Regions from separate parts of the Homo sapiens genome. Here region 2 is linked to region 1. The links come from fine-mapping of genetic effects on gene expression. Tissue or cell type: tibial artery. Region 1 holds a variant in brackets; the other region holds the start of a gene. All regions are shown on one strand. Distances are between the middles of the regions.

The links. PIP is the estimated chance that this variant, and not a neighbour inherited with it, causes the effect.
Region 2: CCDC127 starts here. The variant in region 1 is fine-mapped to the expression of CCDC127 in tibial artery (GTEx, PIP above 0.99). The same link has a PIP of 0.9 or more in lung, pancreas, spleen, thyroid and transverse colon.

What each region holds. Positions count from the first base shown.
Region 1 is chr5:315,409-320,671 of GRCh38, reverse strand. All of the region lies in intron 3 of PDCD6-AHRR (PDCD6-AHRR readthrough (NMD candidate)), which reads right to left. Among named protein-coding and RNA genes, the nearest start is that of AHRR, 3.7 kb to the left of the region's middle. RefSeq lists an enhancer at 1,856-2,155. The variant C/A (reference allele first, on the strand shown) is at 3,159.
Region 2 is chr5:216,020-221,163 of GRCh38, reverse strand. CCDC127 (coiled-coil domain containing 127) reads left to right here and starts at 3,011. Exons shown (of 3, transcript NM_145265.3): 1 at 3,011-3,071; 2 at 4,305-4,435. The coding sequence starts at 4,315. It overlaps SDHA (succinate dehydrogenase complex flavoprotein subunit A), which reads right to left and starts at 2,844. Exons shown (of 15, transcript NM_004168.4): 1 at 2,746-2,844. The coding sequence starts at 2,808. RefSeq lists silencers at 2,234-2,473, 2,704-3,033 and an enhancer at 2,026-2,834.

The DNA of each region.
Region 1 (5,263 bases):
CCCAGGTTCTCAGTCAAACCCCGTCTCCCTGACGCCCCCAACCCGCCCCGCGCCTCCTGCTGTTCTCTGAATAAGGCGTGCGGGCCTTGGGGCCTTTGCACTCGCTGTCTGCTGTCGGCTCAGGAAAAGTCTCTTTTCCAGACACAGCTCCCAAGGTGGGGTGGGCGCAGCTGAGAAGCCCACCCTGCCCCCAAGTGGCCACCGCCCCTCCCCGGGTGTAGCTCCTGCAGGGCAGCCCAGAATTGCTGAGTTCTGCCGCTCTGTCCCCAGGGGTCACCAAGTCGGCTCTGCTCACCTCTGGTTCCTGTCGAATAGCAGAGGCTCAAAAATGTGAGCTGAGTAAATGGGCTTTTTTGGGACAGAGTCTTGCTTTGTCACCCAGGCCTGAGAGCAGTGGTGCGATCTCAGTTCACTGCAGCCTCTGCCTCCAGGGCTCAAGCGATTCTCGTGCCTCAGCCTCCCAAGTAGCTGGGATTACAGTCGCGCGCCACCACACCTGGCTAATTTTTTTTTTTTTTTAAGTAGATAGTGGTTTTGCCATCTTGGCCAGGCTGGTCTCGAACTCCTGACCTCAGGTGATCCACCCACCTCGGCTTGCCAAAGTGTTGGGATTACAGGCATGAGCCACTATGCCACTGAGACAGCCAGGAGCCCTGGGTGCACACATTTATTTTTTGATATGGAACAATGTGCAACTATATTGCTGTATTTTTAAAAATCATTAGTTTTATCTTGATCCAATTTTTGTAAAGTGAATTATGCACAGAAAATGTGTAGCTGGATAACTCTGAGGTAACAGGTGAACTTTAATTTCTTTTTACTTTTTGAAAAGTCTACAATTCCTGTAAATTTTTGCAAGAAGCACATAGTACCTTTGTGATCTGTTAAAATAAGAACCTGTGGGTAGAATGTGATGGTGGTGAGCCGCAGTCCCCCTGCATGGGAAGACAGCACCCCCATGTCTCAGGGCAAGCACGGGTTCCCTTCCACCTACCCTGTCCCACCAGAACCAACTGGAATGAGACACTTTGTTACTCTATTTCCTGGGTACAGAAGGAAACTGCTCCTCCTTCCTTCCCACTGCCCTTGACCGGCACAGGCCATCCACGCCCACCTGTCCCCTGTGCTTGTCCCCAAAGTCTCAGGTCTCTGCAGGACCTGGGGCAGCCAGTGGGACTGTGCAGAAAAAGGATGACCCTGCCGTGGGAGCCACTGCCCCTAAAGTCTCAGGGTTTAGCAGGCAGAGCCCCACGTGGAGTCCTGGAGTCTCTGGGCACCCCACCAGCACAATGGGGGATCCCTGAGCCACCTCCCGTTCAGACGGGCTATTGGGCGTGCCTCCCTCCCCACCACGAAGGTCCAGATGCAGCTGACACCCCCAGTCACAGAGTCTCCTTTCTGCCTCTGTGCTGGGGACCCTGTTCAGGAGGTCTCCTCCCTCCAGTCCGGACTTGCTGTCCCCAGTGTCATTGAACCCTCTGGCTCCCACCCACACTCCCAGCAGCTGGAGACACACCCCTTTCTCCTGGGCCACTGGTCCTCTCGGGACTCTGAACCAGAGGCGCTAACACCTGGCAGGGATGGCAGCTGGGGCAGGACTGGAAGCCTCCGAGGACCCACCCCCAGCTCCGGGTACCCCCACACTGGAGTCTGGTGCGGTGGGTCCCCAGAGCCATATGAGCTGGACTTGGCCTCCAGTGGACCGCCACATGGCAGGTGCCCACGGCCGGCTGCAGCGCCAGGCCCCTCCCAAACAGGCCCAAGTTGGCTTCACAGAAGTGTGGGGGCAAAGCTGCTCTTCATGGGCCTCCAGGAGTGGTGACTGTGACTGCCCCCTCCTGTCCTCTCCTGGCCACACCTTTGCCTCCCACAGGCAGGCCAGGTCAGGAGCCCCCAGGGCCCTGACCTCAGAGGCAGACAGGGGTGTGCTGACCCCTCGGGCCAGGCCAGGACCCCGCACAGGCGCCTGCGGCTCTCTGGCTCTCTGATGGCGGCTGGGTTTCCCGGGTTCCCCGGGTTCCCCATGACTGCTGTGTCTCCAGCGTTGATGCCTCACAGGGAGCCGCTTGGGCAGCCCTGGTCACGCCTGGGTTCCCTCTCTCTCCCACACCAGTTTCTCCCTGGTCACGCCTGGGTTCCCTCTCCCACACCAGTTTCTCCTGTAGCACAGAGAAGGACCTGGGGAATTTTGTCTTTTGTTAAAAACCACAAGGGAGCTCCCTGCTGGGCACAGTCACGGTGGCGCCCGTCAGAGCTGCTTCCAGGGTGCATTCCATCATTCCAAGTTCACTGTGCTGGAGTCAGCTCTCTGCTTGCCGCAGGGTGAGGGGGGGAGGTGGAGGGTGAGGGGGGAGGTGAAGGATTGGGGGAGGTGCAGGGTTGGGGGGAGATGCAGGGTGGGGGGAGGTAAAGGATGGGGGGAGGTGCAGGGTTGGGGGGAGATGCAGGGTGGGGGGAAATAAAGGATGGGGGGAGGTGCAGGGTTGGGGGGAGATGCAGGGTGGGAGGGAGGTAAAAGATGGGGAGAGGTGCAGGGTAAGGGTGGGAGGTGCAGGGTGCGGGGGGGAGGTGGAGGGTGAGGGGGGAGATGAAGGGAGGGGGGAGGTGAAGGATTGGGGGAGGGAAAGGATGGGGGGAGGTGCCAGGTGAGGAGGGAGGTGAAGGATGTGGGGAGGTGCAGGGTTGGGGGGAGATGCAGGGTTGGGAGTAGGTGGAGGGTGAAGGGGGGAGGTACAGGATGGGGGGAGGTGCAGGGTGAGGGGCAGGTGCAAGGTGAGAGGGGAGTTGAAGGGTTGTTGGGGGAGGTGCAGGGTTGTGGCGGGGAGGTGCAGGGTGGCTGTTGGGGGAGGTGCAGGGTTGTCCGGGGAGGTGTAGGGTTGTGGGGGGAGATCAGGGTAGGGAGGGTGGGGAGGCATGGGCCAGGGGCCCCAGGTGAGGGTGTACGGCGTGCACCTGCACCTCCATGTCTGCACTGATGACTGAGGACCCAGAGCGGGGGGAAGGAGAGGCCCCCAGAGATGGCTGTGCCCCCATGTCCTGCTGTCTTGGGTCTTGGGACCGGGGTCGTGACGCTGAGGGTCCCTGGTGGGTGGTCGTGGCCGCTGGCCTGGCCTGGCCTCCGCGACCCAGCCTCACCACACTGGGCCTGCGCCAGGCAC[C/A]TGGTCAGCTGTCCACCCCCTCCACCCCCAAACCCAGGCTCTGAAGGGTCACAGGGCACAGCCTGCCTGACAAGGGAGAGCTGAAAGGGCGAAGGCCCGTCTCTCTGTAGTCTTCTCTCTGCGGCTATAAATCCCATGGCTGTGTCGGGCAGGTCCTCCCGGTCAGTCAGCAGCTCCCGAGAGCTCCGTGGTGCAGCCGCACTGCCCCCACGTGGCCCAGGCTGTGTGCAGCTGCCTGGCCCTTGGGGCCTCAGAGTGCAGTGAGGTTTAGCTCAGGGGCTTCCCTCACCCAGGAAGGCGTGGGTGGCCTCCCTGCAGGCGCCTGAGGATGGGGTCTGTGCTGGCAGTGTGGCTGGGCAGGGGGCACGGCAGCCCTGCTTCCCTGCGGGTTGGCACCCCCTCCACAAGGAATCCACCACAACTCGTGAGCTCACTGCCCTCCAGGGACCCCCAGTTTTGTATCAGTGACTCCGGCCAGGAGAGCAGGGGAGTCCCCCCTCCACACCTTCTGCTTCGAGAGGCTCCTCACCGCCTCCCTCCCTTGACTTCTGATGGCTGGGAGCTCCCCGGGGAAATGTCCCTCCCAACAGCCACAGCCCACCAGCCCAACAGGCTCTCTGCATCCAGGGGTTCCTTTGCCAGCAGGCCGGCCTGACATGCGTTTGTCCAGCGCTCTACCCCTGCTGGTCCTCCAAGCGTGTGGTGCAGCGGCCCCACCGCCCTCCTCACCCTCTGCTGAAGAACTTCTGCTCTGGAATTTTCAGCGGCTTTTGTTCTTGTGAGTCTTCATGGAGGCCCCTCTCCAAGGCAGCCTCCCCGAGCTGCCTGCAAACAGGAGCCCCCATGGCAGCCACGTGCAGAGTACCTGAGGGTACCTGCACCACACACCTGAGTGTACCTCACACCTGTGAACCTGCCACACCTGAGCATACCAGAGACCTGAGAAACACACTTTATCTCCATCAGAGGAACCTCTCATTGCTGTGAAAAGGAAGGAAGGAAAATCATCCACAATCTGACCTTTTCTCTATGAAAGTCTCCGTCTCACCTGGCCTTCGCCTGCTTTCTAGGAGTATGGAGCTAACCGCCACACACAACATTCCTTCCCCGGCAGCTGATCCACAGGATGAGCACATCGGCCTTGGTATCAACTGTTGGCCCGTATCATCCATGGAGACATGTGCTGGGGGCAGGTGTCTCACCAGGGCTGACAGCTCCTCCAGAGTAGCAGGCTTCCCTGACCCAGGTAGGAATCCAGAGGCCAGAGAAGCTGCAGGTGTGGGGTGGGGGTTGCCCACTGCACAGGGGACAGCACGGGCAAGGGCCTGGAGACGTGGCTGGGAGGGCTGCAGGGTGGCCGCAGCAGCTGCCCTCACCCCAAGCACAGAGACCTCACAGGCCTAAGGCTGAAGGAGGAGTGAGGGCAGCTCCCAGGGTGGGGTGGGTGCAGCTACTGGACACTGAGTCCAGGTGCCCATGAGGCGAGGGAGAAGTCGCTGGGCGCCTGGCCGTGGAGGCCTGGGTGAGGAAGGCCTCATGGAATTGGGAGCTTGCGGCCTGGACAAGGAAGTTGACCTCATGGAGTAGAACTTGGGGTCATCTGCTGCAGAGTCATGGGGGTGTCAAGGTCTAGGGAGGCACCCGGCGTGGATTGCTGGGGATCCTCAGAGACTGCCCTGGGATCCCCATGACTGAGGTCATGAGGGAGCAGCCAGACCCCCAAGCCCACATCCCTCCCCCTCCCATCCCCAGGGAGCCTGGAGTGCCTGCTCCAGAGGGATTCGTATCCAGAGGGCCCCAGGCCAAGTGCAGTTGGGCAGTGGGGGAGGTCTCATCTGGAGCACAGAAGCAGCCCCAGTCCCCACCCCCCACAGCACACCTGCCCAGCTTAAGAGACTGGGGGCTTTTTCCAGGAAACCATGCTCCCTGCCCCTCACCCCTCAACACACCGAGCAGAGGTTTGAACAGATCCCAAGAGACCAAAACGAACAGAGAAAAGTCGTGCACAACTGGGTGGAAGGAGCAGGCTTTCTGAGACCAGAGGCTGCAGCCCCAAAACCAGACGCATCACTGTGGAAGGGAAGCGTCTGGAGAATGAGGCTGGG
Region 2 (5,144 bases), 99 kb after region 1:
AGAATTTTAGTGTTTATTATTTTAAAAACAGGGATACTTAAAATACAGTTCGGCCGGGCGTGGTGGCTCACACCTGTAATCCCAGCCCTTTGGGAGACCGAGGCGGGCGGATCACGAGGTCAGGAGATGGAGACCATTCTGGCTAACATGGTGAAACCCCGTCTCTACTAAAAACACAAAAAAATTAGCCGGGCATGATGGCAGGTGCCTGTAGTCCCAGCTACTCAGGAGGCTGAGGCAGGAGAATGGCGTGAACTCGGGAGGCAGAGCTTGCAGTGAGCCGAGATTGCGCCACTGCACTCCAGCCTGGGTGACAGAGTGAGACTCTGTCTCAAAAAAAAAAAAAAATTCAGTTCACACATGGTTACTGTGCATAGGCTGTGAGCCCTGGTTCTCAAGAGCATCACCAAAGGTTTCAAACATTACCCACAGAATCCTCACTAACCCCACGGAAAGACGGAGCTCAGAGAGGATTCAAGTCGGCCGGCCTGGCTCTGGATCCTGGACTTGCCCCCCTATCTAAAGACCCTTGGGAAAAATCTCTGAGACTCCCAACTAATATTAATATCCAGGTTTCATATCAAAAAACAAGTCACAATTTTTCAAATAAATCAGGAAAAACATCATGAGGAATGCAGAATGGAATGCCATTGTTGTTACAATTATCCCAAGAAGCAAAGCAAAGGTTTACTACTATAATGGCCTAAATAATGTATTTCTAGAACACCATTAAACATATTCAGAACAATCCATTCAAAGAAAAGAAATCAATTTGTCCTAGAACAATATATTGGATGTTCATGTTAAGGGATTTGAAAAACTTCACCTGAAGTAAGCAGTTAACCAGTAACTATTGAAGTTTCTTGGTTTTCTTTTTCCTCTGATTAAACTGCTTTCGAACAGTTTGCAAGCTGTGTCAGTGCACTGGGCCATAAAAAGAAACCAAAAGCAAAATAAGTCTGATAAGTTCGTCACTTGAAAGCAGTTGTAAATACAGAATGATCAAAACACCACAGAACTGGCCAAAATGAGGTTAAAAAATTCTCTCTGGACTTTACTGAAATTATCCTCAGCATCTATTTTCCAAACACATTTCTCAGTTGGCTATCACGAATTTCTTTCTTTTTTCTGCTAATTTTTTGATTATGCTGTTCCTTCGTAAACTCCAATTCTTCAGGAAAAAAAGCCTATCTGAAATGCCGATAAATATGCTGCTTGCAGGCAGAATTTCTGTAGGAAAAGCTAACTTCATCAAGATAAAAAGACTTTTACAAAACCCAAGACTAAATTTTGGTTCAATTTTGCTATCTTGCCATCCCGTCTGAGGTGCCTCCGCCGCTGGCAGGGTCTTAGTCTGCAGAAGGAACACCGGGCACCATCTGGGTTGAGGACAAAGGCACTAGCTCTAGCTTTTCTCCAATCACAAGCTACCATTTCCCCTAAAAAGCCCCACTGACCATGGGCTTTCCTTCCTGCTTGTGGACGCCCTCCTAGCAGCTCTTAAAAGCCCAAGATGCGGCAGGGGTCTCTGCTCAGTCAGTACCAACCACAGCAACACACTAGAACGGTTTACACGCTTTCTGATGTTGGCAGGATGGCTGTATGACTAATCCTCACATTTAACTCAACGAGATTTTTAATAAGTATTTCAAAAAGGAGAAAATTGCACAATTACAGGCATAATTCAAATCAATATTGCTGAATGCCTTGGTTCCTATTGAGATTTTTATTCTGCAATTTAAAATTACTTTGTAATTAAGGAGGTGGGTGGGTAAGTTCATTTAAAAGAACCAAACAACTAAACCTATCCAATTTAGCTTGATTAAATAAAACCCTAGAAGGCCGATTCTTAAGATGCAATCGTAGAGGGCACATTCAGACACTCAGAGAGCAAGGGCTCAGGGAAGTATAACCCTGACCACCATCCTGGACTAAGCCGAGCCCGGCCCTAGAGGCACTCAGCGCACAGGCAAGCACAGGTCCCGGCGTCCTCGCCCGGTCAGTGCGCTGAGCTCTCCGCCTGAGTTTTAAAAACTGGCACAGCTGCTTTTAAACACTGGCACATTTTTGGTGGCATAAGGACCACCAAACACGACCCAAAGTAGAAGCCCTTAACTTACAAGGTCTCGAAGTGGACATGGACAGATTTGCGCTTTCTGGAAAGGCGAACTGCAAGCCTAAGCTCGGGCGCGCCACGCTTCCCACCGGACGCCCACCGGGCCGAGCCCGGCCACTCCTCGCACCCACCCGGGCGGTCTCACCCGCCCCGCCGGCCCCACCCACGGGCTGCGGGCTGCTCCTCAGGACAACCCGCACAGAGGGCGGCAGAGGCCCAGCCCAGCCAGGGCGGCCACCGGCCGCTATCCGCCCGGGTGACCTTGGGCAGACACGACTCCTCCCCGAGTCCACCTGCCAGGCACTGAGGCGAGGGGCTACCTCAGCCCGCGGGGTCCCAGGACCCCAGGCCCGGACCAAGGCGGCGGAGGGGACGCCCAGCAAGCCCGCGGGGTTGTGACCTTCACCCGGACGCGGACTATCTACTAAGGACCGAGCTCCCCGGGTCCCCGAGTCCGCCCCGCGGCTTCCCCTCGCACCGGCCCAGGGCTCTCTCAGCCCCTTCCCGATCCCGGGACAGAGGGCGCAGGGACCCGGCGCCCGCTCCGCTCGGACCCGCTGGGGACCGTCCCGCTCCTACCGCCGCCTCGGCCCCCGCCTGCCCCGCCCCGGTCCGCGGCACGGACTCACCGCCTTGGCCAGCGCCAGGCGCCGAGCGCTCAGCAGCCGCGACAGGCCCCGGACCCCCGACATGTCTGCTGTTGCCGCCGCGCAGTCCCGCCAGTCCCTGCGCAGACTGCGCCTGCGCACCACACCGGGGTCGAGCTGGCGGGGGAGGGGGGATACCGCGCCTGCGCACCACGCCGGAGTCGAGCGGGGCTGCAGTGGGGGACATCGCGCCTGCGCACCATGCCACGCCCGGAGCGGGTACTGAGTGGGGGCGCCGCGCCTGCGCAAAGCGGACCCGCGGACGGTGGCGTTAAGGGAACGCTGAGGTCCCGCGCTCCCCGACCGAGGTAGAGCGGGCCCTGTTCCGGGGAGGTGGTGGGCACCAACATTTTTAAAGCCCCGTGGGTGGTTCTCCGGGATCGCCCAGACCGAAGGGCCTGAACGCCCAGACCGCAGGGAATGGGGTCGGAGGGGGGCGCTCGTCCGCGGAGGTGGGCGGGAGCGGCCCGGGGCCTCCGACCTCTTGTTTATTATACATCCCTTGATTAACTAAACTATTTTGTAATTGTGTGTGTTTGTGGAGGTCACATGTAAACAAACTTAAAGTGACTCTACTTTGTGAAAATGTGAAACTTCGTGTAGGTACTCAGTAAATCAGTAAATTCTTACTAACGTTAGCCCCCAGCCTAGCTATGGAGGGTGCATGCTGAGCCCGAAGCAGAGAACTCTGTAATCTCTGCATTCATCACCACCACGAGGAGGCCTCAGAAGCTTCTAGCACTGTTTGCACCTTCCCCACATCACCCCTCCCTGCCTTCCTCACAGTCTTCCTTCTGATCAGAAGACCCTTTCCTTCTTTCTCTGCCTGTCAAAATGCTGCTCACTCTTCAAACCCTAGCTCATATGAAAGTGTCCGGTGTGAGCCCACTTTTATCGAGTTGATTCTGTATCTTTGATACAACTGTATGAGGGTTCTCCAGAGACACAACAAATAGAAGGGAGACGTGAGGAATTGGTTTAAAGGTTCAATTGCTAATCTCATCCAAAAACACCCTTACAGACACGCCCAGAAATAATGCTTAACCATGTATCTGAGCACCTCATGATGCCGTCAAGTTGACAAACAAAATTAACCATCGCAGCAGCCATACATTTAAACATATTTGTACCAGAGAACTTACCTGATTCTACCTGCACTTCAGATGCTTAAGACATGTCTGTTTTCTCCACTTTCCCCAACCAGATTGTGAGTCGCTTTCATCTTAAGTTCTTGTTTTTTTTTTCCTTTTTCTTTTTCTTTTTTTTTGGGGGGGACGGAGTCTCGTTCTGTCACCAGGCTGGAGTGCAGTGGCGCGACCTCGACTCACTGCAACCTCCACCTCCCAGGTTCAAGCGATTCTCCTGCCTCAGCCTCCCGAGTAGCTGGGACTACAGGTGCCCGCCACCATGCCCGGCTCTGGTCTAGTTTTTTTCTTCTTTGAATCCCGTAGGGCCTCAGTGCTGTGCAGCAAGCACATAGTTAAAACTGAAGAAAAATTTCTTGAATAAAAGTAGTTAACGTTTTTATTCTTTACTTCAAGGTATATCTCCATGAATAACCTAAATGATCCCCCAAATTGGAATATCCGGCCTAATTCCAGGGCGGATGGTGGTGATGGAAGCAGGTGGAATTATGCCCTGTTGGTTCCAATGCTGGGATTGGCTGCTTTTCGTAAGTCATGGTTTTCTTAAAATTCGTGTTTTCCAGGCTGAGAGTGTGGAGCCCCGGTGAGGGAGGCAGCATGGTGTGGGAGCCTGAAGGCCGTGACTTTGGGACCTGCCAGGGACAGCCGAGTTTTATCCCCTGCAGTGAACCGTGGGCAAATCACTTAAGCTCTGAGCCTCAGTCTTCCTGTTCACAGGAGATGGATAATCATACTTAACCTCAGCACACTGCAAGGATTAAGTCAGCCAAGGCGTTTAGAAGCATTTTGTGTGGGGTGGGTTTTAATAACTTAGTTCCCTCTGAAGGCTTTGCTGCTCTCAAGTCGGGGAGGAGGTTCCTTATTTCAGGTGCCCTCATAAGGACTGCTGGGGAACAAAACGGGTGTAAAGGAAACCAGTGGGCTGGGCGTGGTGGCTCATACCTGTAACCCCAGCACTCTGCGAGGCCCAGGTGGGCAGATCGAGTGACCAGCCTGAGCAACACAGCAAAACCCCGTCTCTACAAAAAAATACAAAAATTAGCAAGTCGTGACGGTGCACACCTGTAGTCCCAGCTACTCAGGAGGCTGAGGTGGGAAGATCAGTGGAGCCTGGGAGGTCGAGGCTGCAGTGAGTGGAGATGGCACCACTTGCCCTCCAGCCCGAGCAACAGGGTTAAAAAAAAAAAAAAAGAAAACCAGTTTTGGAAAACCAGTGATGTTTAATGTTTAGGAAAT